Regions from separate parts of the Homo sapiens genome. Here region 2 is linked to region 1. Evidence: fine-mapped expression QTL. Tissue or cell type: subcutaneous fat. Region 1 holds a variant in brackets; the other region holds the start of a gene. All regions are shown on one strand. Distances are between the middles of the regions.

Region 1 (8,223 bases):
TAAGCTTAATCATTTTTAGCTTCTGATTTAAGAGGAGAGATTTACTACTCTTCCTTTTGCTTAAACACCTGGAGGCCACTGTAGGGGTAATAATTTGGGGGTATTAATCAGGGCCCTGATTTCAATATTGTTGTGCCTCAGGGAATACCATTTGAGATGGTAAAAGCATCAATGTAAAACTAATTTTAAAGATCTATTTTCACTTCTTAATTTTCTAGACTTGATTTGTTTGAATTAGTATTCATGAATCTCTTGTAAAAGTAATTTGAAGGAGGATTACAAAACTGCTCCCTTCTTTGGTATAACAATAATACTGTTTTTTTTTTTGAGACGGAGTCTCACTTTGTCACCCAGGCTGGAGTGGTGGTGTGATCTTCACCACTCACTGCAACCTCCGCCTCCCGGATTCAAGCAATTCTTCTGCCTCAGCCTCCCAGATTCAAGCAATTCTTCTGCCTCAGCCTCCCAAGTAGCTGAGATTACAGGTGTGTGCCCATAAAACTGGCTAAAGTTTTTTGTATTTTTAGTAGAGACACGGTTTCACTATGTTGGTCAGGCTGGTCTTGAACTCCTGACATCAAATGATCCACCTGTATCAGCCTCCCAAAGTGCTAGGAATACAAGTATGAGCCACCACGTCCAGCCAATAGTAATAATCTTAGATAAGATATAGTACTTGCCTAGGAATTAAGAACCAACATGGAATTACTTATGAAAGAACAATAGTTAAAGCAGTTAATGTATTACATATTTCACAGTTTTGTATGTTTTATTTTACTAACTGGACAGGGGGAAAAACTCCCTGTGATAAGATGTTTTTCTTTGAGGAAACAGAGTGCATTCACTTTCTTTTAGCTTCGTGAATGAATGCTCAGGTTCCTATCATTCATACAATTGAGTGAGCGACCTTAGGTAGTTGTGTATATCCAAAATGTCTATCACTGGTGAGATTTCATATTGAAGGTTTCACAAAGAATGATCAGGTATTCCACAAACAGTAGAAGAAATTCTGATTCACATCCTTCTGATAGATTCTCCAACTAAGTTATAACCAGATCCTCCAACTAAGTTATAACCAGATCAACGAAGCACAACCTCCCTTGGTATCTGCGGGGGATTGATTCCAAGACCCCACCTCAGATACCAAAATCCACGAATGCTCAAGGCCTTTATATGAAATGGTGTAGTATAAGCTTGTTCAACCTGTGGTCTGCAGCCCATATGTGGCCCAGGACAGTTTTGAATGTGGCCTAACACAAACTCACAAATTTTTAAAAAACATTATGAGATTTTTTGCAATTTTTTTTTTTTAGCTCATTAGCTATCATTAGTATTAGAGTATTTCATGTGTGGCCCAAGATATTTCTTGTTCCAATGTGGTCCAGAGAAGCCAAAAGATTGGACGCCCCTGGGAAGTATTTACATATAACGTACACACATCCTCCTATGTACTTAAACCATCTCTAGATTACTAATACCTAATACAATGTAAATAGCTGTTATACTATAATGTTTAGGGAATGATGACATTTTAAAAGTATGCACCTGGAAAAAGTTCTGCTTCCAAATCTATTGTACACCCATGTGCATGGGCAAACTATGGATAAAAATTCTCTGACATTCTCTTTCTCTGGAGATTGAGCACTATTTTCTTTCCTGCCCATGTCTATGATGACTATACCTAAGAAGTATAAGCACTAGCTAAGGATTCCACATACTATTTCCACCACTACCACTTGACTGCTTACCATCTCTACCACATTATAACAATAGTAACACATGTTAGGCACGTCCCAGGTGCCAGACACTAGGAACTTTTCATGAACCATTTCAATTAATCCTCACAGTAACCCTATAAAGCAGGCTTTAACACTCTATTATATAAATAAGGAAAGGAGGATTTGAGAGGTTAAGCAACGGGTCTAAAGTCACACTCCCACTGAGCAACAGAATCGGAATTTGAGGCCAGGTCTTCCCAACTCCAGGTCTTTACTACTCTTTTTTTTTTTTTTTTTTGAGACAGAGTCTCGCTGTTGCCCAAGCTAGAGTGCACTCGTGTGATCTTGGCTCACTGCAACCTCTGTCTCCTGGGTTCAAGCAATTTTCCTGCCTCAGCCTCCCAAGTAGCTGGGGCTACACGTGTGCGCCACCACAACTGGCTAATTTTAGTAGAGACGGGGTTTCGCCATGTTGGCTAGGCTGGTCTCAAACTCCTCACCTCAAGTAATCTGCCCGCCTCTGCCTCCCAAAGTGCTGGGATTACAGGCATGAGCCAACACACCCAGCCTTTACTACTCTTATTATAACAGTTTTGCTTGCTATGCAGAGTAACTGTATTGAATTTGAAATCTGCAAAATGAAGTAAGAGATTCATGTCTTTAGAAGAAAACAAATAATGTCCTGCTTTTTATCTCATTTTTTTCCCCTTGAGTTCTGTCAAGCTATTGAGAAGCAATATATATGAAAATTAACACATGACACAAGTCCTTTTGCCAGGCAAACGCCCTAATTTACCTGTTAATATGATGCCTATAAACATCCAGACACAGAGAAAAATGTTCCCTGCCTTAGGACCATAGTCTGATGTGAGCTTTCCTTGAGCCAATGTGAACAAAATTCCAAATATCTAAAATACAATAAGAAAAATCATTCGTTATTAAGTTAAATTATTTAAAGCAAGTATAAAGTTTTCACCAGAACTTTTCTTATTTTGGTTATATGATTTGGTTTCTAGAAACATTCATTGAAAAGTTGAATTGTTAAAACAAAAACCACGGTCAGGCTGGGTGCAGTGGCTCACACCCACTGTAATCCTAGCACTTTGGGAGTTGAGGTAGGCGAATTGCTTGAGCCCAGGAGTCCGAGACCAGCCTGGACAACATGGCAAAACACCATCTCTACAAAAAATAACAAAAAAAATTTAGCTGGGCATGCTGGTGTGCACCTGCAGTCCCAAAAACTCTGGAGGCAGAGGGGGGAGGATTGCTTGAGCCTAGGAGTTTGAGGCTATAGTTAGCCATGACTGCACTACTGCACTCCAGCTTGGATGGCTGAGCAAGACTCTGTCTCCAAAAAACAAAACAACAACAACAACAAATAAAACCATGGTCAAACTCATTACTCACTAGAATATCTGGTATAATAATCATCTCAGGTTTAGAGAAATCAGAGGTTTACCTGTGCAGAAGCATTAAGAAGACCAGATGAAGTACCTTCAGATTCAGGGTAAGTGATTTCAACAGCAAATTCAAAACCCAAAGGGAGGTAACCAGTCATGAAGAAGCTAGGAAAATAAATCCAGAATTACAGAAAGAACTACCAGAAAGTCACAATCACATACTGATGCAATCATTCTGCCTCTCGGGCTTATTCTAATGACCAAATAAGTGAATATTTTGAAGTTGCTATGTCAAAGTAAGGAACTATTATCATTGACCAATCAGCTCAAGGTTACAGAACTGGAAGCAACAAATACACATTTTTTTCTGAGAAAAATTTACTTCTAGTTTTATAAGTTGATTGTAACCAAATAAAGTTACACAGATTAAGTAAGGCTCATCCATTTTTTACCTATGGTATACCAAAAACCAATTTTAAATAATTTTTAATAGTTCTTAAGAATTACATGTTTATATGCATAGAATGAATCCTTTAAAGTTTAAAATATTGAAGAAACTTTGGATGAACTGAAAAAATTAAAGACCAGAGTAATAATACTTCAGAATTATAACAGCATGCTATCATTCCTCCTAAACACATCTGATACTTACCCAAGCACCCCTCCAGTAACAAACACGATGATAAT[A/G]TATCTAAGGTCCAATGTGAAAGTAAAGATAACCATTCCAATAAAAGACAAAATATAAACTATCAGAGTAGTCTGTCTAAAACAAAAACAACAAAGCTGTTAGTATTTTGTCTGATTCTCCTAGGAATACAAAAATCATCACTCTTACCTGTTCAGTAATGAATCTTTGTTTTTCAAAGTTCACCCCTTCTTGTCCATGGAAATATGTATCCACCAAAGCACAAATTTTAAAGCATTTTTAATTTAAGATTCAGCAGCACCAGAAAACCACACCATATCGAATGCTCAGATAGGATCCTTTTATAGGAATAAAATCATTTTTATGCCACCAAATGGGATAGTTCCCTATTCACATTTCAAGATTCAGATCAAATTCTACCTCTTCCAAATGCCTTCTGTAACGACACCAGTTTATAAGAGTCTCTCTTTCTTCCAAATTCCCTTATCATACTGGCACTATAAAACTTATGACATCTATTTTAGTTTGTTATATTATTTAACTTTTCACATGTGAATGCCTTATTTGCTCCATTTAGACCACAAACATCTTAAGAACAGGGATCACATAATGCCAGCCATAATTTTCATCTAAGAAAGATGCACACAACAGGAGTTTGGTGAATGAATGGCAGTTACCCTGAGAAGGAAGCCACAGTGGCAAAGAACACACATCTATGCCTATCAAGTTTTCTAAATGTATAACGGATGAAAGACTTAAGAAATATAATCCTTTACATATGCTCCCTTCATCTATATATCAAGTAGGTTTCACTCTAAGCTATCATTTTAAAATAATGAAGCTAAGGCAAGTGCTGTCTTAAATTATGGAAGAATATGGAGAATTTCAAGATTAGAGATACTTTTGGTAGCGTTTAGACTAATAATATCAAATATATCTTGAGCCTTGAAAGGTACACGGGACACAGTTCCATATTTCATTCATTTATTCCTTAATAGTTTCATTCATTCATTTCCAAGTACAGGGGTAAGTTTTGGCATGTTACAAAATGTGGTGATTCTTTTCACTCCCAGAGCAAAATATGCTGCCTCTGAAACCCCTTTCTTAGTCTCCCAGTTGGTATCATTCATTTTCTTTGGTATTAGCCTTTTGGTGGTTCCATATAATGTACAATTAACAGAGTATATTCTTTTTTTTTTATTTTTTTAGACAGCGTCTTGCTCTGTCACCCAGGCTGGAGACCAGTGGCACGCTATCTCAGCTCGCTGCAACCTCTGCCTCCTGGGTTCAAGCAATTCTCCTTCCTTAGCCTCCTGAGTAGCTGGGATTACAGGTGCCCACCACCACACTTGACTATTTTTTGTATTTTCAGTAGAGATGGCGTTTCACCATGTTGCCCAAGCTGGTCTCGAACTCCTGGCCTCAAGCAATCTACCCGCCTTGGCCTCCCAAAATGCTGGGATTACAGGCATAAGACATTGTGTCAAACCAGCATTTTCACATTATGCATTATATTACAGTTAAGTGGTACTGTAGTCTGGGCGTACTTTAGCCAAAAAGTTCTTACCAAAATAAAGCCTTATGCTCAACAATAATTTTTTGATTGGAAAGAACTACTTTTTTGTTTTTGTATTTAAGCCCACAACATAAAAAAAGAACAACATAGGCCAGGTGCAGTGGCTCATGCCTGTAATCCCAGCACTTTGGGAGGCTGAGGTGGGCAGATTGCCTGACCTCAGGAGTTCAAAATCAGCCTGGGCAACATGGTGAAACACTGTCTCTATCAAAAAGTCAAAAAATTAGCCGGGTGTGGTGGCGCACACCTGTGGTCACAGCTACTCAGGAGGCTGAGGTGGGAGAATCACTTGAGCCTGGAAAGCAGAAGTTGCAGTGAGCCAAGATGGTGCCACTGCACTCCAGCCTGGGTGACAGAGTGAGACCCCACCTAAAAAAAAAAAAAAAAAAGAACAAGATAAAGTCTATCAAAAGTCAAATATTTCTCAGAAATGGCTCTTTTTAGAATAGAAATAATTCCTTCGGAAGTGGTAGGTATGAGTACTGTTAGAAAGAAGGGGCTCATAAGGTATCCAAGTTCTCAGAATTGAAATAAATGTGACCAATAAAATAATACAATACATAGAGTATTGAAACACTTGTTGCTGGGCGCGGTGGCTCACGCCTGTAATCCCAGCACTTTGGGAGGTCGAGGCGGGTGGATCACAAGGTCAGGAGATCGAGACCATCCTGGCTAACAAGGTGAAACCCCGTCTCTACTAAAAATATAAAAAAATTAGCCGGACATGGTGGCGGGTGCCTGTAGTCCCAGCTACTCGGGAGGCTGAGGCAGGAAAATGGCGTGAAGCCGGGAGACAGAGGTTGCAGTGAGCCGAGATTGCGCCACTGCACTCTAGCCTGGGCGACAGAACGAGACTCCGTCTCAAAAAAAAAAAAAAAAAAGAAACACTTGTTAAGTGAAGAGAACCTACTAGTGTTTAGAATCCGTATCTTTAAGTAATAACATGTTTTAAATTTCTTGAAATAAAAAGCAAATTGTCCTTTAAAATCAAAATACCTTTGGTTATACACCATACATGTATTTACTTTCACTTACTTGTATGTTTTAGTATAATCCAGCCATAAGCCACAAAGAATAGAGCCCACCATTCCAGCTACTACTAGCGTTAGCCCAATCCTTCCAGCATTGACTTCTTCTCCCTGAAAAAAATTTGCGTAAGAAGTTGATCAAATAAATGGATTAACTAATTCAGACTCTTCACATTCCCACACCTTTTCATAGTCAATGAAAATAATTAGATAAAACTAAGCACACAGTAGGAAGATTTAGTACATGTGTCAGTGTGGGAGGGGAGGGCAGGTAAAGAATATATAAAAGCATTATATTTTAAAACCAGAAAAAAAGCCTAAAATAATAGAAGAAATAAAAAAGGTAAATTTTCCTTAATCCTCTATGGTTAGAAGTACAATGATTTTTGTTAGGATTCTTAAGTATAGATAGTCATGTGCTCCATAATTACATTTAGGTCAACTCTGAATCATATATACAGTATGATCCTGTAAGATTATAATACTGTATTTTTATTCTACCTTCTCTGTTTAGATATATTTAGATACACAATACTTACCATTGTATTACAACTGCCTACAACATTCAGTAGCATAACATGTTATACAGGTTTGTAGCCTAGGAGCAATAGGCTATACCACGTAGCCTAGGTATGTAGCAGGCTCTACCATCAGGTTTGCGTAAGTACACTCTATGATATTCACACAACAATGAAATTGCCTAGCGAATTTCTCAGAAGGTATTCCTGTCACTAAGCAAGGTATGACACTGTATAGATATCTGAAAAGGAGGTTAATCGATAGCTTTTACATAGTACAACTGCTTTATCCTTTCAAAAGCAGATACGTCAATCAAAACTTGATATTTATTTATCTATATTTATGCTGAGTTCCCTTAAAATGTTTTGTCTTTTTCCATATAACCAATCATATTATTTCCTAAAAATAAACTTAGGTATTGTCACAGGGATAGTAACTTCTGCTTTCCATATTGTGTGTGTGTGTATTTTGTTTTGTTTCGTTTTTTTGAGATGGAGTCTCACTCTGTCACTAGGCTGGAGTACAGTGGCGCTATCTTGGCTGGGATTACAGGTGTGAGCCACGGCGCCCAGCCTGTTTTTTTTTTAAATGGGGATTCACTCTTATTGCCCAGGATGGAATACAATGGCACGATCTCGGCTCACCGCCACCTCCACCTCCCAGGCTCAAGTGTTTCTCCTGCCTCAGCCTCCCGAATAGCTGGAATTACAGGCATGCGCCACCATGCCCAGCTAATTTTGTATTTTTGGTAGAGACAGGGTTTCTCCATGTCGGTCAGGCTGGTCTCGACCTCAGGTGATCCACCCGCCTCGGCCTTCCAAAGTGCTGGGATTACAGGCGTGAGCCACTATGCCTGGCCATACTATGTGCTTTATAAACTGGATTAAATATGTTAAATTAAAATGATGGGAGGCCATTGTTTTGGAGTGAGCTCCCACAGTAGGCCCAACAGACCAGACCACATAGAATGGTGTCACTAGTGCTAGGTGTCACATAATCAAACTGAACTTTAAAATGGGCCACTTTTCCAAAAAAAAAAAAAAAAGGAGATTCATAGCAACCTATCAGATGGGGCCCAGTCCCCTTTGTTTTACTCCTATAAGGAAAGTAACTTTGTAGCAACCAATCTGCTCTTTGTTCCTTGTTTCTGCTTTCTTCAGCCTTTTTCTGCCTATAAAGCCCATCTCCTCTGCTCAGCTCATCAGTACCTTTCTAAATCTTTAGATGGGATGCTGTCCAATAAACGAATTGATAATAAAAGCCAATTAGATATATAAAGTTGTGGAAATTTCATTTTTTAACAAATATATTCTCAATTAAAACAAATGTAAATATT
Region 2 (8,000 bases), 30 kb after region 1:
GGTAATTACAAGAGAGGGTGGTAATACAGTACTGTGATTGAGACGTAAACAGTGCCAAGACTGGGGAGACCACGTAATTTACTATCCATCTAGAATACTCTTCAGAATGAAAGGGACTTCATTAGTAATCATACCAGACAACAGGTGTACCACCTGGACTATCCCAAGCAAACTGGGACATATGATCATGGTAGCTAAGAGAGTACTTTGGGGGAGCACCTTATATAGAAATATTATTCAGCTATCAAAAAGAATGAAAAGAAATGGGGTTCAGAAAAAGTTCCTGGAGGAGCAAAGATCTGAATAAGAAATTGGAGTTAGTCAAGTGAAGAAATATTCCAAGCCAACAGGACATTACATACAAGGCCAGGAGGGAAAGGGCACGACCTTGTGAGAAACTATAAGTAGGCATAGTTCTGCACAGAGCAGAGAAAGCATATGTCTGTGGGGACAGGGGTTGTGCATACAGATAAAGTGGAAGGGCTGGCAGGAGGCAGATCTGGAGGGTCCCATATGTCACACTAGAGTGTTTGAATTTTATCCTAAGGACAATGGAAGCCACTGCAGGGGGTAAGGATGTGCCCGGAACAGATTTGCACATTGTAAAAGACCACGCTGGATGAATGCGAGAACAGAGGGAAGACAGCAAGGGCTACAGATAGGGAGGACAGTTAGCAAGCTCTAGGTGAGAGCTGTGGGTGGCCCAAACCAAGACAGTGGCATTAGAGATAAAGGGAAATGAGCAAGGAGAAAGCAATTTTGAGTGGTGTGTTCCCATGAGATATCCAAGTAGACTATCCAGCTGGCCAGTATCTGTATGAGTCTGAAGCTCCTTTATTTATTCAACATGGTTTTATGGAGAGTAATAAATGCTGGTGATACAGCTGTGTACATTCAGACCACATTCCTATTTTCATGAAACTTACAATCTAATGGTGGGGATAAGAGAAAAGTAATAGGTAAGTAACATATGAACATGTAAACAATAACATATGAGACAGGGATGAGTGCTATAAGGAGAATTAAAGTAAAATAATGTAAAGAGAGTGACTGGGCAACTCTAAATGGGATCAAGAAATGCTACTGAATATTTAAAAATGAATTTAAACTGAGAGATGTGTGACAAAGAAAATGTAATCATGGCCGGGCGTGGTGGTTCACACCTGTAATCCCAGCACTTCGGGAGGCAGAGGTGGGCAGAGAGCTTGAGCTCAGCAGTTCGAGACAAGCATGAGCAACATGGAGAAACCCCATTTCTACAAAAAAAAAAAAAAAAAACCACACACACAAAAAACTTTATAATAGCTTCTGTCCAAACCTGCAGATGCAACCAACTCAAGTATCAGTCATAAATTATTTTGGACAAACAACTATAGTTCAACCTACTCCATCTTCTGTACTTTTAGATAAGGGAAATGACTATAAAGCAATAAGCATGTAGATTCTCATGCCTTGGCCACCTGAGTAGCTGGAATTACAGGCATGCACCACACCATGCCCCACTAATTTTTGTGTATTTGGTTTTGCCATGTTGGCCAGGCTGGTCTCAGACTCCTGGCCTCAAGTGATCCGCCTGCCTCAGCCTCCCAAAGTGCTGAGATTACAGGCGTGAGCCACCACGCCCAGCCCAGAACTTTTGGTTAGCAGTCATTTATGTGTCCCTTATGTGCCAGGAACTGTGCTGACTGCTAATATATGAAATTAAAAGGGAGCTGTTCACAATGACCTCTCAAAATGGAAACAATCTTCCCAGAACCCAATACCTTCCTTTCACAAATACACTGGTGACAAAAATAATACCCCAAGTCTTGTTCGTTACTGCATTGACAAATTTTCCATGTTAGGCATACACAAGCCAATACAGTTAATTATTATTATTATTATTATGGTTACAGTTTATTATTATTATTTGAGACAGAGTCTCACTCTGTCACCCAAGCTGGAGTGCAAAGGTGCAATCTCCGCTCACTGCAACCTCCACCTCCCGGGTTCAAGAGATTCTCCTGCCTCAGCCTCCTGAGTTGCTGGGACTACAGATACCCGCAAGCAGGCCTGGCTAATTTCTGTATTTTTAACAGAGACGGGGTTTCCCCATGTTGCCCAGGCTGGTCTGGAACTCCTGACTTGAAGTGATCCACCCACCTCGGCCTCCCAAAGTGCTGGGATTACAGGTGTGTGCCACCGCGCCCGGCCCAGTTAATTATTTTATAGGTAATTTTCAAAGCAAGATGACAAGGTCGTTTGGAAAATTTTGTCCTTACAAAGAAATTTATAGCCCACTTCAATCCAAGACGGCCTCCTATTCAACGGCTTCATCTCCTCTTTTATAGACAAATACCTCCTGGGGCAGTTCATCCATACAGGCCATAGTTCTCACGGCCTATGACTTTTTCCGGTCTTTTAAGGATCTGACTTTCACCTACCACTCCAGTACTTACCTGATTGCCCAGCACGGCGGTGGCACAAGCTGTGGACACCTCTTTGGGCCCAAACCACACTGAGGCGATGCGGGAGGGCAAGCCCAGGATGAACACCTGGGCCACCGAGCACAAGCACTGGCCCAACATGGTGACCCAGAAGAGATGCTGCTGCACACTGCCGCACTTGATCCAGGCACCCAGGCAGTTGAGGCCGGAGCCCAGCAGGGCGGTGAGCCGCAGGCCTCTGGTGTCCAGCAGCCAGGTGGCCGGGAAGATGAGGGGCACGTAGGCCAGCATGTACACCATGGACAGCCAGTCGATGTGCAGCAAGGTGACACCGTAGAAGCCCTCGAAGACGTTGCTAATGATGCTGTACTGGATCCACTGAAAGGCGTTGACCAGCGAGTACAGGCTGAAGATCAGGAGCACCACGAAGCGCCGCGGGGAGAGCGCCGTAAGGGGCAGCGGGCTGCTCTCGGCCCCCGGGGTCTCAGCTCCCGCGCCCGCAGGCAGCAGCCGGGCCTGGGTCTCCTCTTCTGGGGCCAGTGGAGTCTGAGGCCCGCCCAGAACTCCCGAGGCGGCAGCGAGGCTGTCCCGGGGGGCCCCATTCACCGGGAAGGTGCCCGCTTTGGGCCCGTTCTGCAGCTCCACGCTCTCCTTCCCAACGGGCGCGCCCCTCGGCAACGGGAGGTATCCTTTCGCGAGCGGGTGTCCGGGCGCCACCGCCGCCCCCTCCTCATCGTCTGGCCGCGCCATATCCCAGGCTCCCCGGCGCCACCTCGCTCCCCCGCCCCACTCCCCGACTCCGCTCTCCCGGCCCACAGCCCGAGGTCCTCCTGGGGCCCCACCTCCAACCCCTCGGCCCACCGCTCCTTCCCCGGTGGCGCGCGCCGCGAACCGCAATCCGCGCTACCGCGTGAACAGATGAAGGTCTCCTCCCCCGCGCCGCGCGGCAGTCACCCCTTGTCTGGTCCCGCCCCTAGAGTCGCGCGTCCTGCATGACTACGGCCCTCCGGCCAATCAGCGTGCGCCTTTGTCCGGCGCGAGAGCCAGTCGGGGAGCTACCGGGCGAGAACTTCGGGAGGCGGGGGAGGAAAGCGGCCGGCGAGCGCTGGCTGACATTTTCCTGCCCGGAAGGATGCATGGCCCGGGGTCTCCTGCACCTGAGGGTGGGCGGGAGGCGGCCCCGCGGGTTGTGTTGCTGGAAAAAGGGGTCTCGATCCAGACCCCAAGAGAGGGTTCTTGGGTCTACTTCAGGGAAGAATTGGAGGCGAGTCACAGAGCGCAGTGAAGGAAGCAAGTTTATTGGAATCTACTCCGTTAGAGAGTGCAAGTCCTCAGACTGCAGGAGGAGGAACTCCCGTCCTTCGGTAGTGTCACTACTTAGAGGCAGCTGTGAGGAGCTGTGATTAATCGTGGAATGTGCTGATGTGCCCACTAAAGGTAGGGGCTGTTGGTGCACTAATGACCATTAATCCTTCAACCTAAGCCTGCGCATTGACGTTATCTCTGAGTAGAGGGCTGGGCCGGGCTCGGTGGCCACGTCTGTAATCCCAGCACTGTGGGAGGCCGGACAGGAGTCTCCCTTGAGCCCAGGAGTTCGAGACCAGCCTGGGCAACATACTGAGATGCCATCTATTTAAAAAAAAAAAAAAAAAAAAAAAAGCCAGTAGCCAGGCGTGGTGGTGCATGCCTGTAGTCCCAGCTACTCAGGAGGCTGAGGCAGGAGAACTACTTGAACCTGGGAGGCGGAGGTTGCAGTGAGCTGAGATCGCACCACACTGCCCTCCAGCCTAGCCTGGGCGACAAAGTGAGACCTTGTCTAAAAAAAAAAAAAAAACTCAGGACATCTGGACAATTCCGCAGACTTGGTGGGAGATGTCCTGTATGGCCATAAATATTGTGTAATTATAATTGTTGGTCAGCTTAGAATGCGGCTATTTTCAGACCTTTAGCATTAACCTTATAGGTGCCTTGTGAGTGCCTAGTTACTCACTTTAACATGCAGTCGCTCTAGCCATGTTTTATTAAACCAGATGCCTGGTAAGCAGTGGCTCCTCTAACAAGTGGGCAGCTTGGAACTGGGAACGAGAGAGCCACCGAAACAGAATGAGGGAGACAAAGAAGTGGGCATCACCCTTAACTCCACAAGGGCTTCCCAAGGGCGCTGTACCGTACGCAGGCCCAGGACGAACTTTATTTCTCGCCCCAGCATCGCTGTCCTTGTCGGTGAGACCCTGGCTTTAGGGCAGACAGGACCACGTTTCATAAGTTCATGCTGTCCCAGCAGAGGAATAACGCCAGAAAGTGTTCCAGTACAACCAGAGAAAGAGAGTCCATGAGAAATCTGCCCTTGTGAAGTTGGAATCCCCTCAACCTCACCCCGCTGACTTGAATGAAGCGACTGAGACGGGCTATGATGGAGCAGATCCGGTTGCTCGACCTTCTCCCTTGCACCAACACATGTAGTTAATAGTTACTGGACATGCATATTCAGTGGGTTCCAGGTACCAAACTTGTATTGAATGGTATGTGCCAGACACCGTCTTGAGATCTGGAGAATAAAAAAATAAAAAAATAAAAACGAGACATCCAGAGCACAGTAGCCTTGCGGTCTTCCTGGAACTAGAGAAAATTCAGCCCTTCTGCTCCTTGGGAAGCTATGTTTGGGAAAAAAAAAAAAAGAGAGAGAGAGAGACTCCAAAGAGTTTGTTATTAAATTTAAGTTCAAACTAGGTGTATATAGTACAAAAGTTCTTACCATGCATTTAATCTTAAAATGTGCTGATATCTAGAACCCTAAAACCCTGCACTTTTTTATTGCCTCTTACATTATTATTTTGGTCATGTATGAAATATATCAGGCATCTCTCGGTACAGGTGAAATGCTACATGTTCTAAACTAAGGAATAAGTGCATTATTATAATGTCTTCCTTGGCCAAACTGTATAAATCCCCCCCTCCGCCCGCCCCGGCCAACATCCCTTCCCTGCTTTTTTTTTTCTTTCTTTCCTAGTGCTTACCTTCACCTAAAATGTCCTATATTTTTACTTTTTTTTTCTGGTTATTTTCTTTCTTTCTTTTTTTTTTTGACAGTCTTGCTCTGTCACCCAGGCTGGAGTGCAGTGGCGCGATCTCGGCTCACTGCAACCTCCACCTCCCAGGTTCAAGCGATTCTTCTGCCTCAGCCTCCCGAGTAACTGGAACTACAGGCCCGCGCCATCATGCCTGGCTAATTTTTGTATTTTTCTTTAGTGGAGACAGGGTTTCACCATATTGGCCAGGCTGGTCTTGAACTCCTGACCTCGTGATCCGCCCGCCTCAGCCTCGCAAAGTGCTGGGATTACAGGCCTGAGCCACCGAGCCTGGCCTCTTTCTTTCTTTTCTTTCTTTCTCTCTCTCTTTCTTTCCTTCTCTCTCTCTCTCTCGGCTGACCACCAAGCCTGAGTACTTTTTGTATTTTTTGTAGAGATGGGGTTTTGCCACATTGCTCAGACTGGTCTCAACTGATCAGCTCACTTCGGCCTCCCAAAGTGCTAGGATTACAGGCATGAGCCATTGTGCTGGGCCTTTTTCTGGTTATTTTCTCCCTGCCCACTAGAATGTGAGTTCCATAAGGGCAGGGCTGAAAGTTTTGTTGCTTTTTGCTACCGCTACTATTTTTCAAGAATTTGTAACCAGTGTACTTTGTGCGAGTACCTAGCACATAGTAGCTGTTCAATAAATATTTACTGAGTACAGCTAATGAATACTGAATTACCGTGAATATTTTAAATAATTACTTGCTTTGTAAAGAAATCTATTTCTTCTCTCTGCCCAACTGCTGCTGCATCGCCATCACAGACACCAGCCATGTGCAGCCTATCTAGCTAGCCAGGGTCACCAAGGTCCTGGGCAGAACCAGCTCTCAGGGACAGTGCATGCGGGAATTTATGGAAGACACAAGCCACTCCATCATCCACAGTGTAAAAGACCCCATGCGCAAGGGCTATGTGCTCACCCTGTTGGAGTCAGAGCGAGAGGCCTGGAGGTTGCACTGAGCTTGGCTGCTCACTGGGTCTTGGATGTTGGGTTCGACCACTTGGTCCATGAGAATGCTGTGCCATGATCTGCTCCTTTATTTTATTTGCCAGCCGCACAGGAATTGAGATATGCATTTAAATAAAGTGTTTGTGTGCCAAATTAGAAAGAAAAGAAAGGAAAGAGACAAAGAAAGAAGAGAGAGAGAAAGAAAGAAAGAGAGAAAAAGAAAGGAAGGAAGGAAAAAAGGAGGGAGGAGAGAAGGAAGGAAATCTTTTTTTAAATTATTATTATTATTTTTTTTTTTTTTTTGAGACGGAGTTTCGCTCTTGTCACCCAGGCTGGAGTGCAGTGATGCGATCTCGGCTCACTGCAACCTCTGTTTCCGGGGTTCAAGCGATTCTCCCTCCTCAGCCTCTCAAGTAGCTGGGATTAAGGCGCCCACCACCACGTGAAATCTGTTTCTTAAAAAAAAAAAATCTTGGCCAGGTGCAGTGGCTTACGCCTGTAATCCCAGCACTTTAGGAGGCCGAGGCGGGTGGATCACGAGGTCAGGAGATCAAGACCATCCTGGCTAACACGGTGAAGCCCATCTCTACTAAAAATACAAAATATTAGCCGGGCATGGTGGTGGGCGCCTGTAGTCCCAGCTACTCGAGAGGCTGAGGCAGGAGAATAGCGTAAACCCAGGAGGTGGAGCTTGCAGTGAGCCGAGATCGCGCCACTGCACTCCAGCCTGGGCGATAGAGCGAGACTCCGTCTCAGAAAAAAACAAAAACAAAAACAAAAACAAAAAAAGTCTTGCAAACTTCCAGAAGGAAGGGAAGGAGGGAGTGAAATCTATTTCTTTCTCTTTTCCTTTTTCTTTTTTTGACACAGAGCTTTGCCCTTGGAGTCCAGGCTGGAGTGCAATGATGAAATCTCAGCTGACTGCAACTTCTGCCTCCCGGGTTCAAGTGATTCTCCTGCCTCAGCCTCCCAAGTAACTGAGATTACAGGTGCCCACACCCGGGTAATTTTTGTATTTTTAGTAGAGACAGGGTTTCTCCATGTCGGTCAGGCTGGTCTCGAACTCCTGACCTCAGGTGATCCACCTACCTCAGCCTCCCAAAGTGCTGGGGTTACAGGCATGAGCCACCGTGCCCGGCCACCATTCTAATTTCTTAATCTTGTCTTCTTTCTCTGGCTTCAGTGGTAGATATTTATTAACCAGTTTAAACATGAGTCATTATTTATATCAAATGTTTGGATGTATAACGTAAAATGAACCTTAATCTCTGTCAAAAAAGATACTACTGGGAGCATCGTTTGGCTGGGAGTCAAGATGAGATTGAGCTACTTTATGGGTGTGGAATGCCAAGTCAGAGAGATTTGAATAAGTAACACTTCAGCAATATGAGATCTGGACAGCATCCAGGAGCCAAGGTCCAAGATGCTAATAGGAGTGATGTAGCTGTCCCTGAACAAAGGTTTGCCACAGTTTACGAGCCTCAGAGGTTAAGATGCAAACCAGAACAATGCTATTGGATGTGCAATCCATGATGTTTCATGGGGAGGTGG

Evidence for each region. PIP is the estimated chance that this variant, and not a neighbour inherited with it, causes the effect.
Region 2: FLVCR1 starts here. The variant in region 1 is fine-mapped to the expression of FLVCR1 in subcutaneous fat (GTEx, PIP 0.91).

What each region holds. Positions count from the first base shown.
Region 1 is chr1:212,883,549-212,891,771 of GRCh38, reverse strand. FLVCR1 (FLVCR choline and heme transporter 1) reads right to left here. Exons shown (of 10, transcript NM_014053.4): 5 at 6,376-6,479; 6 at 3,771-3,881; 7 at 3,178-3,283; 8 at 2,515-2,626. Among named protein-coding and RNA genes, the nearest start is that of FLVCR1, 29 kb to the right of the region's middle. The variant A/G (reference allele first, on the strand shown) is at 3,806.
Region 2 is chr1:212,853,629-212,861,628 of GRCh38, reverse strand. FLVCR1 (FLVCR choline and heme transporter 1) reads right to left here and starts at 3,354. Exons shown (of 10, transcript NM_014053.4): 1 at 2,439-3,354. The coding sequence starts at 3,176. FLVCR1-DT (FLVCR1 divergent transcript) reads left to right here and starts at 3,491. Exons shown (of 2, transcript NR_027286.1): 1 at 3,491-3,863; 2 at 4,711-5,025. It also overlaps the pseudogene RPS28P2. RefSeq lists silencers at 2,904-3,113, 3,194-3,253.